Homo sapiens: one gene and its partners. The protein of the gene in region 3 interacts with the protein of the main gene of each other region in a pairwise test. Each region holds a gene or a part of one and is shown on either strand. Other genes may lie near its edges. The genes, in order: ABTB1, MAPK6 and EEF1A2.

Region 1 (2,889 bases), on a different chromosome or scaffold from region 3:
GCCTTCCTCTTCCTCCTAGAGCATGAGTTTGCCTAGGACCCAATCTCCATGGCCAAACGCGATGCCCCAGGCAGGATGGGTAAGCTACGGCCTGTGGACCAAATCCAGCCTGTTTGTGCAAGTAAAGTTTTATTGGAATGCAGCCTCACCCACTCATCTCTGTACTGTCTCTGGCTACCTTTGCGCTACAGAGTTGAGTAGCTACAACAGGGCCATATGGCCCACAGAACCTGAAACACTCACCTTCAGAGAAAAGGTTTTTGACCTTCACCCTTAGGCATACAGGGGCAAGATGGAGGGATGACCTGATCTTCCGCAAGCCACTTGCCCTGGGGCACCCACCTCAGTCAGAAGTGAAGGAGAAACAAACTCCCCTCTTCTTTAAGCCACCAGATATGGGGATTGCTTTATAGTGCGCGCGCACGCGCACGCACACACACACTCTCTCTCTCTCTCACACACCCTGGCAGAGCAAACCTTCAGCACTCTGCTGCTGCCCTGCAGCCTTGGCTTACGGACACCTTGGGGCAGCTGGAGACAGAGGCAGGCAGCAAGGGAAGAGGAGACTGGGAACCCAGAACCCCAGGGATCTGCAGCACCACAGAGAGGAGGCTGTCCCCACCCACCCTCCACCCTCCTGCTAGAGAAGCTGAGGATCCCAAGTGGCTGACAAGTGTGGAGTGTCTGTGACACAGGCTCATCACTCATCCTCTCTCTGGAGCCCAACAAGGCTTCCTCTACCTGAAAGAAAAATCCAAAGTCCCACAGCCTTCCCCTCCAGCCTTCTCAAAACGTCAACCATGGGGCCAGCTGGGCCCTTCCACAGACCCCCAGGGCCCTGGCGCTCCCTCTCAGCCCACGGCAGCACAGGTTGTGTGCCATCCCCAGCTCTGCCTGAGCCCCCACCTCAGTGTGGTCGCTGTACATGTAGTAGAGCACGTGAGTGAAGACGTCGGGTGAGATGCCATGCAGGGTGACGGCTGGGGGGCCCCCTGAGGTCGCTGGCTCCTCGCTCTCTCGGAAGTGGTCATCCAGCAGGGCTCGGAAGTAGTCACTGCGGCCACAGAAAAAGGCCTGGGGGAGGCCGGGCTCAGGAAGTGTGAGGGCCAGGGTCTGTCTCCTGAGGAGCTAGACGGGGGCTCAGGGCAACGGGCTGGGGCCAGGGGCAACAGGAGGGCACAGGCACCTTGTGGCAGAGGAAGCTGCAGCCAGCCACTCGGAAGCAGATGTCAGGGCAGCTGTTGAAGCCGTCAGGACAAGGGAAGGGCAGCTCCCAAAGATCACCCTGGGGTACAGAAGAGGTGACCCCATCAGAGCAGTTGTTCACAGAAGTGAACGACTAGGTTCAGAAAAGGGAAGTAACTGGTCCAGGACCACACAAGGAATTGAGCCCAAGTATCTGGGCTGCCTGTCACGGCCTGCCATCCCAAAACGCCCTTCCTGCCCACCAGCCCCGCACTTACTCGGAGCTCGGGGGGCAGGGCACAATCGGCCAGCAGCGCCATGTCCTCCCGGAGGCGGGGGTCTGCAGGTGGGGGCTCGATGGTCAGCACCTTCACACACGTGCCTGGCTTAGACGCCACTACAGGGGAAGAACAACTTCAGGGAGCCAGGCCAGCCCTGCCAGGCCGCACCCATGGCCCCGGGCCCCAAACCCTGCTCGCACCAAACTCAGACACCTTCTCGCACTTGGCCTCCAGGTCGCTGAGCAGGTCCCACAGCTGGCATTGCTTGGCCAGGCGCTCACAGTCACTCACATGCTCTACGCCAATGTCCAGGCGGCCTGGGGGCAGTGGGGAGGATGAGGGCCTGCGGGACCTCAGCTGTCATCAGGCCCACAGAAAAAGGGTGATCCCCTCCCACCTGGCCACCTGGCTGCAGGACTAGGACTCCTGGGCCCACTTGCCACCATGGTTTCCCCATCAAAAGCTGTTCTACAGGCCCCAGGGAACAGATGGGAGGGCCTCAGCATGTGGGTGGGACAAGCTCTTCCTGAGCAGGCACACTAGTCCTCTCTCTTGCAACCCAACCCGAGAGGCAGCTGGAACCACCCCGGGGGGACCATGAAGTGTCTAGAGGTGAAAGGTCAGCCCAGCCACACCTAGGTGTACTGCTGTCCAGAAGGACGGCCCACTCCCTCTCCTCCTACCCTGGACCCAGGGGGTCACCTGTGTACAGGTACTGCAGCAGGGCCCCAAAGGCCACGGGGTTGATCTGTGGGCAGAAAACCAGAAAGTAATGTCAGAGGCAGCCACCCAGCACAACCTCCTGCTGTTCCTGGACAGTTCATGCCCCTCTGCCACCCTGAAGGGACATACCAGTGGGTGCCTGAGAACCACGACACTCTTGCCCTTCCATTTGGTGTCCAGCATGTTGGCAAAGTAGGCACTACGTGCACCCAGGACGCAGCGATGCACCCGGAATGGCTTCCCGTGTACTACAAAGACCACGTCACTGTGGATGCCCTGCTCTAGAAGCCTGGGGAGGGACAAGCCAGGAGGGAGGATACTTGGCACAGCCCCACCCCATTCCTCGGAGCACTCAGAACCCAGTGCAGGCCACAGTCAGAGCAGACTCGCCACACCCACCAGGGCCACCGCACCCCATGCTGCACCCCTCGTGTGCCCTGGCTCACCGCTGCAAGAAGTCGTCATAGTAATCCCGCCTCCTGCAGGAAGCCGTGACCTGCTTGTAATCGCGTAGAGCCCGGCGGATGGGGTCACTCAGTGCCCCATAGAGGCAGCGCTCACCATCGAAGGTGTTGGCCTCGCAGCGGGCTCCTGGGGGAGGCAGGGCTCACCAGTTAGCAGGGAAGGGGCCTGGGGGAAATTCTAATCTCCCTGTCCCTCCTCCCCACCTTCCCACACATGGGGCTCCGAATCTCTGGCG
Region 2 (3,652 bases), on a different chromosome or scaffold from region 3:
AGAGCCCACATCGTCTGTTAATTGGCTTCCACTGGGACCAAGAATCTCAAACACTTTCACAATGTTATCATGGTCAAGTCTTCTAATAATTTTGATTTCACGTAGAGCATGTTTGACACTCTGGGGATCAGTAAGGACAATTTTCTTGATGGCTACTCTTTTGTCACAGTCATTGTCTACAGCAGAAAAAACCAAGCCATTGCCTCCACAACCCAATGGTTTTAAGTCCATATACCTAGAACCCAGATCAAAACCATGAATGTTCATGAGACTTTCAAATTTCTCTGCCATTTTGAAACCCTTACTATTGCCTTTTCCTTTCAAATTGAACTTGTGTAAACAAGGAAGAAAACTGGCATCAAAAGGAAAGATCTTTCAAAAAGGGAGAAGAAAAATAATTATGCTTCCACAGCAAGATGGTTTCTTGATGTTCATTGCATATGCCAAACAGGCCTGTCGAGTTCCCCTTAGATTTAAAGCTCAAAAAGCTCTATTCATATTGAGAATTAAAAAGATTGCAGTACTCATAGTTCAAGAAAGGGGCAGCAACTCTGCAGACATTTAACGAAAACAAGAAACTCAAACGGAATGAAATGACATACTGTGCACTCAGATTACCGTGCTAAACGATTTAACATTTAACAAAAATGTGAATAAATATGCACACAACAGGCTTCTATGAACATTCTCCTCACAGTGCAGATACATTCAGTGTTGGACTGGTCCTGAGCAGCATCATTCTAAGGTGCTGGTAAGCACTATTTCCGTTTTGCTTCTTTTTTTCCTTTGTTGCTATATATTTATTTCAACAGGAAGCCCTGGCGGCTGTTGGTTAACAGAAGATGTCTTTTGTTAGTGATCAGGTGGCTCCAGCTCACCACAATCACAATCAAAGCTACCGTCCATCTTACTCTGATACAACCTGGGGGGATGAGAAAAAGAAGAGAGTCACCATTGCAGGAAATACTCTTTTCTTCAAATTTGTAGTATGACACAAAGTAGGCATTTAGCAATAAACTACTACTGGTACATTAAACTTAATTATGGTCATTAAGTGACAAATTACCCTTAATCAAAAATAGCTTACAAAAATGTTATCAGCAATTCACACACGTTGGCCCGGGCTCCAGATTTCACTACACTAGATTCTTGGTAACAGGCTCATTAGGTTGTACCATTTCTGAAATGCCAACAAGTATGGGAAGGTTCATAATATTTTTATAGAACTTGAGTTTTGTGAGGGGTAAAACGTTAGTAACATCTATCTAAATATCTAAAAGAATATAGAAGAAGCCTGCAATGTGTTAGTTTGTTAAAAAGCATGTTTACTTATTAACTATGCCTATCAATATCCAATGAACAAAAATCTAACAGCACAAATATGCAAATAATGTTCTTCAACTTATAAGAGTAAACTTGAACAATGAATAATACCTATGAAAAGGTATTTAATGTGACTGATAGGAAAAGATTACCTTAAGAGAACATTTCAGATTGAAAAAACATGCATCTCTGTTAATGTCAAGTCTGAGGAGTGTAGAAAAACAAACTTTCACACAATAGTGGTTGGAGTTTAAATTAGTAAAAACTTCAGAGCAATTTGGCATAAACATATAAATGAATAAATAAATAGCGTACTCTATGACCCGGCCATTTTTCTTCACAGTAAACTCCCTAGAGAAATGCTCATTTTTTTTTGGTAAAGAAAATTAGAAACAACCTCAACTTCATAAAATAGGAGAACAGATAAGTAGTTATATGCATGCAAAATAGTTTTTTTTGGTAAGTACATATGTATATTGCAAAACTAAAAAAAAAAAAAAAAGGAAAAAAAAATGAGACAAATACCAAATTCATAATGATTACCCGGAGATTAAGGAAAGAGACCAGAATCATTTATCTGCGTTTTAATGTGTTATTTATTTTAAAATAACAAACATGGCAGATTACTAGAATCTTATAGAGCTGGGTGGTATGTATATGAAGGTTCATTATATTGATCTCTGTACACTTAAAATATTTCATACTTTAAAAAATATCCTATAAAAGGGCAGGAAAAAATAGCCTCAACTCCAGTAGATGGTTCCCTAGCCAGCCTGGAAAAAAAAAAATGCAACTTGGTTCTTTCAGTTTCTTAATGGCCTAATTGCAGAGTACCCAGAATACCAGATATGAGGCATTATGGAAAATCAGGTGGTCAGAATTCCTAACAAATAAGACCAGACAATATTTTAGGCAGAAAGAATAAAGCCACCAATTTATTCGTTTAATATATAAACATATATTGAGCAACTACTATATGCTAGGCAGGAGCAAACCTGATATGAGCAAAAGGATTCTGGCCCTCAGTAAACGCAACTCATTGTCCAATAGGAGAAAGACAGCTTTAATAAAAACTGATACTTACTATATCCCTCAGTTCTTTTAATAAATAAGAACGGGTCTTGTATCTGCTTAATATCATGAAGGATACTAATAGTATAATAGCTTTATTTTACTGTAACAGAAACGGCTTCTCCTGTCTACAAGTTTTTCTCTGCTTCTCAGAAATCAGCCCTCCTAGCCCGCCCCCCCAAAAAAAAAGTCCTAAAAATTCTGTAGCTTACCAGTCTATCTGTAATAAAACACTTAAAAGTTGAAGTTTGTGAATAAACTTTTGAATTAAAAAAATATCTCAAGGCCGGACACGGTGGCTCACGCCTGTAATCCCAACACTTTGGGAAGCCGAGGCAGGCAGATCACGAAGTCAGGAGTTCAAGACCAGCCTGGCCAATATGGTGAAACCCCGTCTCTACTAAAAATACAAAAAGTAGCCAGGCGTGGTGGCGCATGCCTGTAGTCCCAGCTACTCAGGAGGGTAAGGCTGGATAATCGCTTGAACCAGGTAGGTAGAGGTTGCAGGGAGGTAGAGGTTGCAGTGAGCCGAGATCCTGCCATTGCACTCCAGCCTGGGGGACACAGCGAGACTCTGCCTCAAAAAAAAAAAAAAAAAAAAAAAAAAAAAAAAAATCAAACAACTTAAGTCCAACATATCATTTGCTATTATCTAGCTGAGCCATTAGTCTGTCTTTGGTCTTTAGCCAGTGGATTTTCAATGTTGTTATATGATCTAGCTCATGTGATAGTGGAAATAAGTAATAAAAATAAATTTTTGTGGCCAGGCGCGGTGGCTCACGCCTGTAATCCCAGCACTTTGGGAGGCCAAGGCAGGTGGATCTCCTCAGGTCGTGAGTTCGAGATCAGCCTACCAACATGGAGAAACCCCGTCTCTACTAAAAATACAAAAATCAGCCCAGCGTGGTGATAGGTGCCTGTAATCCCAGCTACTCGGGAGGCTGAGGCAAGAGAATCGCTTGGACCTGGGAGGTGGAGGTTGCAGTGAGGTGAGATCACGCCACTGCACTCCAGCCTGGGCAAAAGAGCAAGATTCCGTCTCAAAAAAAATGAATAAATAAAAAATAAAAATAATTTTTGTATTGGTAAAAAAGTTTCAGATTTTTAAAAAGGGCTTTAATACTGCATGTCTCCCTCCCACCAAGTTTTTTCTGTTTGTACACATCTTGATTCTTCCTGCTCGCTCCCCACTAAATACCCTAGGAAAACCAGTTTGTTTGTTTTTTGAGACAGGGTATTGCTCTGTCATCCAGGCCAG
Region 3 (3,652 bases):
GAGAGCAAGGGGGTGCTGGAGCCCATCTCCCGCCTCTCGCGGCCACTCTGCTGTAACAAGCAGCTCGCACCACCAGGGACTCCTGGGTCCCGGGTCCCGCCCTCAGCCGTGACCCTCACCCGCTCCAGATGGGGAAGGGATCCTTCAAGTATGCCTGGGTGCTGGACAAGCTGAAGGCGGAGCGTGAGCGCGGCATCACCATCGACATCTCCCTCTGGAAGTTCGAGACCACCAAGTACTACATCACCATCATCGATGCCCCCGGCCACCGCGACTTCATCAAGAACATGATCACGGGTACATCCCAGGTGAGCAGGGCACAGCAGGCGGGGCTGGGGGAGAGGCCGCTGCACCCTTCAAGGGACACTGGGGGCCCCTGGGGTCACTGGGATGGTAGGGTCTCCTGTGCTTCCTGTGAGGGCAGGGGACCCCTCACCTGGGCCACCCTCACCCAGTCTGGCTCAGAGCCCCCCTAAGGATGAATCCAGTGCTCTGGCATCTGAACCAGTGCCTGTGAAGGCATCCAGCCAGTGTCAGAGTCCCCAGATAGATGGGGGCAGATGGGGACGTGGACACACCTTCATACATGGAGGGGTTGGAGGCCAGGATGGGGAGAGTGAGCAGTGGGCAGAGGTGCCACCCGCCAGGTGTAGACTGTATGACATTTCAGGGCACTCACAGAGACGCACGGACACCCCAGACACAGCACCCTGCAGACAGCAGGACACATGCCACCACCTCCAAACTGCTTTGATAACTGTGACTTCTATCCGTCCTCAAGTGAGGAACAGGAGCAGATAGGCTGAGTGACTTGTCCAGGGACACACAGCCCACTGGTGGTGGAGCCAGGGCTGAACCTCGGTCCCCTGACCCAGGGCCTGGCGATGAGCCCCCATGCTGCCCTTGAAGTGGGGACCCCCATGCCTCCCTCCCCAAGGCCCCAGTGGGCTGCTCAGGCCCCAGCCCGCTGCCTGGAGAGGCCTGGAAGTGAGGTGGGGCCAGGCTCGCTCTGTCCCCTGCCAGGCAGGCGGGGCAGGGCTCACTGTGTCCCCTGCCGGGCAGGCGGACTGCGCAGTGCTGATCGTGGCGGCGGGCGTGGGCGAGTTCGAGGCGGGCATCTCCAAGAATGGGCAGACGCGGGAGCATGCCCTGCTGGCCTACACGCTGGGTGTGAAGCAGCTCATCGTGGGCGTGAACAAAATGGACTCCACAGAGCCGGCCTACAGCGAGAAGCGCTACGACGAGATCGTCAAGGAAGTCAGCGCCTACATCAAGAAGATCGGCTACAACCCGGCCACCGTGCCCTTTGTGCCCATCTCCGGCTGGCACGGTGACAACATGCTGGAGCCCTCCCCCAACGTGAGTGGCGGCTAGGGCGGGGCGGGCCACGGGAGCTGGCTGGACCCCCTGGCCCAGAGCGAGGCACCGGCAGGTGGCACGGGGAGGTCGAGGGCCTGTCCCCGGGAAATGCAGGTTCCCCTCGAAACCTGCTGGGTTTCCCTAACTGGCTCAGGGCCCGGCGGGGAGCCCCATGCCCCTCAGCACCGGGCTTTGCTCCTACACTCAGCCTCCCACGCGGCTGGCCGGGGCCAGGGCCCATCTACGATGTCAACACAGCAGGGGCAGCGGCCTCCAGCACCAGGCCCATGTGCTTGGTCTCCAGAGCCCTGCCATGGGGGCGGTCGGTTTCATCTCTGCCAGGCCATTGTCCTGGTCCTGGACACCGTGCAGGGGCTTTGGGCTGGGCCGTGGGGGCCTCCTTGGCTGCCTCCCCTGGGATCTTGGAGCAGGGTTGGGCTTTGGGAAGTGTGCATGCTTCTGGGCTTGCTGGGATGGCCAAGGGTTGGCTCTTGGCCGGTCACCTGGGAGCTCAACGTGCGAACAGTCTGTAGCCCAGGGACTCTGCCTTGGCTGGAGGTGACGCGTGGAGACACTTGCAGAACCTGAGACTGTTCCCAGGGTTCTCCAAGCCAGAGGAGACCCCAGAATGGCCACCACTAGGCTCTGCCAGCACTGTCGCTGCCCACAGTGAGGGTGCAGGTGTGGAGTCTAGAGACAGCAGGGAGACAGACCAGCAGCACTGAGCCTGGAGCTGAGGTCTGGGGACAGAACTGGGAGGGACTCCCCCAGCTCCGCCTCCATCTCACGAGGCTCGGTGTTGTTTACCTGTGATGGCGTTTTCCTCATGGGGTATCATGTGGCGAACGCCACTCTCCCCTCCCCAGGGAGGCCTCCAGCCATCAGGGACCCTGCACTCCCCTCTGGCCTGAGCTGCTAGGTGGCTCGTGCTTACACAGGCCCTGGGGGGCTGGGGCACTGTGCTGCCGGCCCCCTCCCCTGCTCCCTGTTTGTGGCAGGTGGCCCAGAGGGAGGCTTCATGGGATGGGAGTGGGGGCCACACTAGGAGAAGCTCCGGACAAGGCTGGGCCAAGCTCGGAGGCAGCACGGTGTCCAGAAGCTAGGGTGGGGCGAGGCTCCTCCAGCTCTGTCCCTGGCCTGGCCCTTGGCCAGACTCAGCATCCTCCTAGTCAAGTCATCTGCCCTGCCTGGAGCTGATGGTCAGGGGCCCGGGGTTTCGGGGACTTGGGGCTGGACTGGGGATTTGTTCACAGTGTCAGCAACTCCTGAGCAGCCTGGGCTGGGAAGGGTGCTTTCCCTCTTTGTCCTCCTCCTTTTAAGAGGGATCTCCTTCCCAGAGTCCCTGTGATGCTGGGGCTATGGGCTGGGGAGGAGCAGGGTGGGGAAATTCCTCATCTCAAAGGGCACGAGGCAAGTTTAGCCTGAACAGCAGTACTCCTGGAAGCACCCTGGGGAGGCCTGAGGGTGGGGAGGCCACCAATGTCTCTTAACGGATTGATTTTCTCCCTTTGGTCCAGATGCCGTGGTTCAAGGGCTGGAAGGTGGAGCGTAAGGAGGGCAACGCAAGCGGCGTGTCCCTGCTGGAGGCCCTGGACACCATCCTGCCCCCCACGCGCCCCACGGACAAGCCCCTGCGCCTGCCGCTGCAGGACGTGTACAAGATTGGCGGTGAGCAAGGGCGCTGTGCTGGAGCTCCTGCCTGGCCAGCTCTGCCTGCCCTAGACCAGGGGCCCCTACAAGGCATCTCAAGACTGGGCTGTCTCCAATCTCTCCCCTTACCACACACTTTCTGTGGGACAGTCCATCCCACATCCATCCATCCATCCACCCACCTCCCCACCCATCCATCCTCTGTCCATCCATCCACCCATCCATCTATCCACCTCTCCATCCATCTATCTATCCATCCATCCATCCATCGATCCATCCATCTCCCCACCCATCCATCCTTCACTCCATCCATCCATCCATCCATTGTCCCATCCATCCTTCTCTCTATCGAACCATCCCTCCATCTCTCCATCTATCCACCTCCCCACCCATCCATCCTTCTGTCCATCAATCCATCCATCCATCCATCCATCCACCTCTCCATCCATCCATCCATCTCCCCACCCATCCATCCTTCTCTCTATCCATCCATCCATCCATCCATCCATTGATTGTCCCACCCATCCATCCTTCTCTCTATCCCTCCATCCATCCATCCATGCATCCATCCATCCATTGTCCCACCCATCCATCCTTCTCTCTATCCATCCATCCATCCTTCCATCCATCCATCCACCTCCCC

What was found.
Region 1: the proteins of EEF1A2 (region 3) and ABTB1 interact in binary tests that used the Homo sapiens proteins (3 or more experiments, as listed by UniProt).
Region 2: the proteins of EEF1A2 (region 3) and MAPK6 interact in a two-hybrid assay, tested with the Homo sapiens proteins (one large-scale study listed by BioGRID and IntAct).

The regions. Positions count from the first base shown.
Region 1 is NC_000003.12:127,675,861-127,678,749, reverse strand, and holds part of ABTB1 (ankyrin repeat and BTB/POZ domain-containing protein 1), read right to left. Parts: intron 2,781-2,889; coding exon 2,636-2,780; intron 2,479-2,635; coding exon 2,319-2,478; intron 2,215-2,318; coding exon 2,169-2,214; intron 1,784-2,168; coding exon 1,667-1,783; intron 1,583-1,666; coding exon 1,464-1,582; intron 1,286-1,463; coding exon 1,187-1,285; intron 1,075-1,186; coding exon 907-1,074; intron 1-906. UniProt on the Homo sapiens protein: May act as a mediator of the PTEN growth-suppressive signaling pathway. May play a role in developmental processes.
Region 2 is NC_000015.10:52,043,100-52,046,751, reverse strand, and holds part of MAPK6 (mitogen-activated protein kinase 6), read right to left. Parts: intron 2,975-3,652; exon of another isoform or gene 1,088-2,974; intron 923-1,087; 5' UTR 292-922; coding exon 1-291. UniProt on the Homo sapiens protein: Atypical MAPK protein. Phosphorylates microtubule-associated protein 2 (MAP2) and MAPKAPK5.
Region 3 is NC_000020.11:63,492,512-63,496,163, reverse strand, and holds part of EEF1A2 (elongation factor 1-alpha 2), read left to right. Parts: intron 1-128; coding exon 129-308; intron 309-1,062; coding exon 1,063-1,359; intron 1,360-2,876; coding exon 2,877-3,027; intron 3,028-3,652. UniProt on the Homo sapiens protein: Translation elongation factor that catalyzes the GTP-dependent binding of aminoacyl-tRNA (aa-tRNA) to the A-site of ribosomes during the elongation phase of protein synthesis.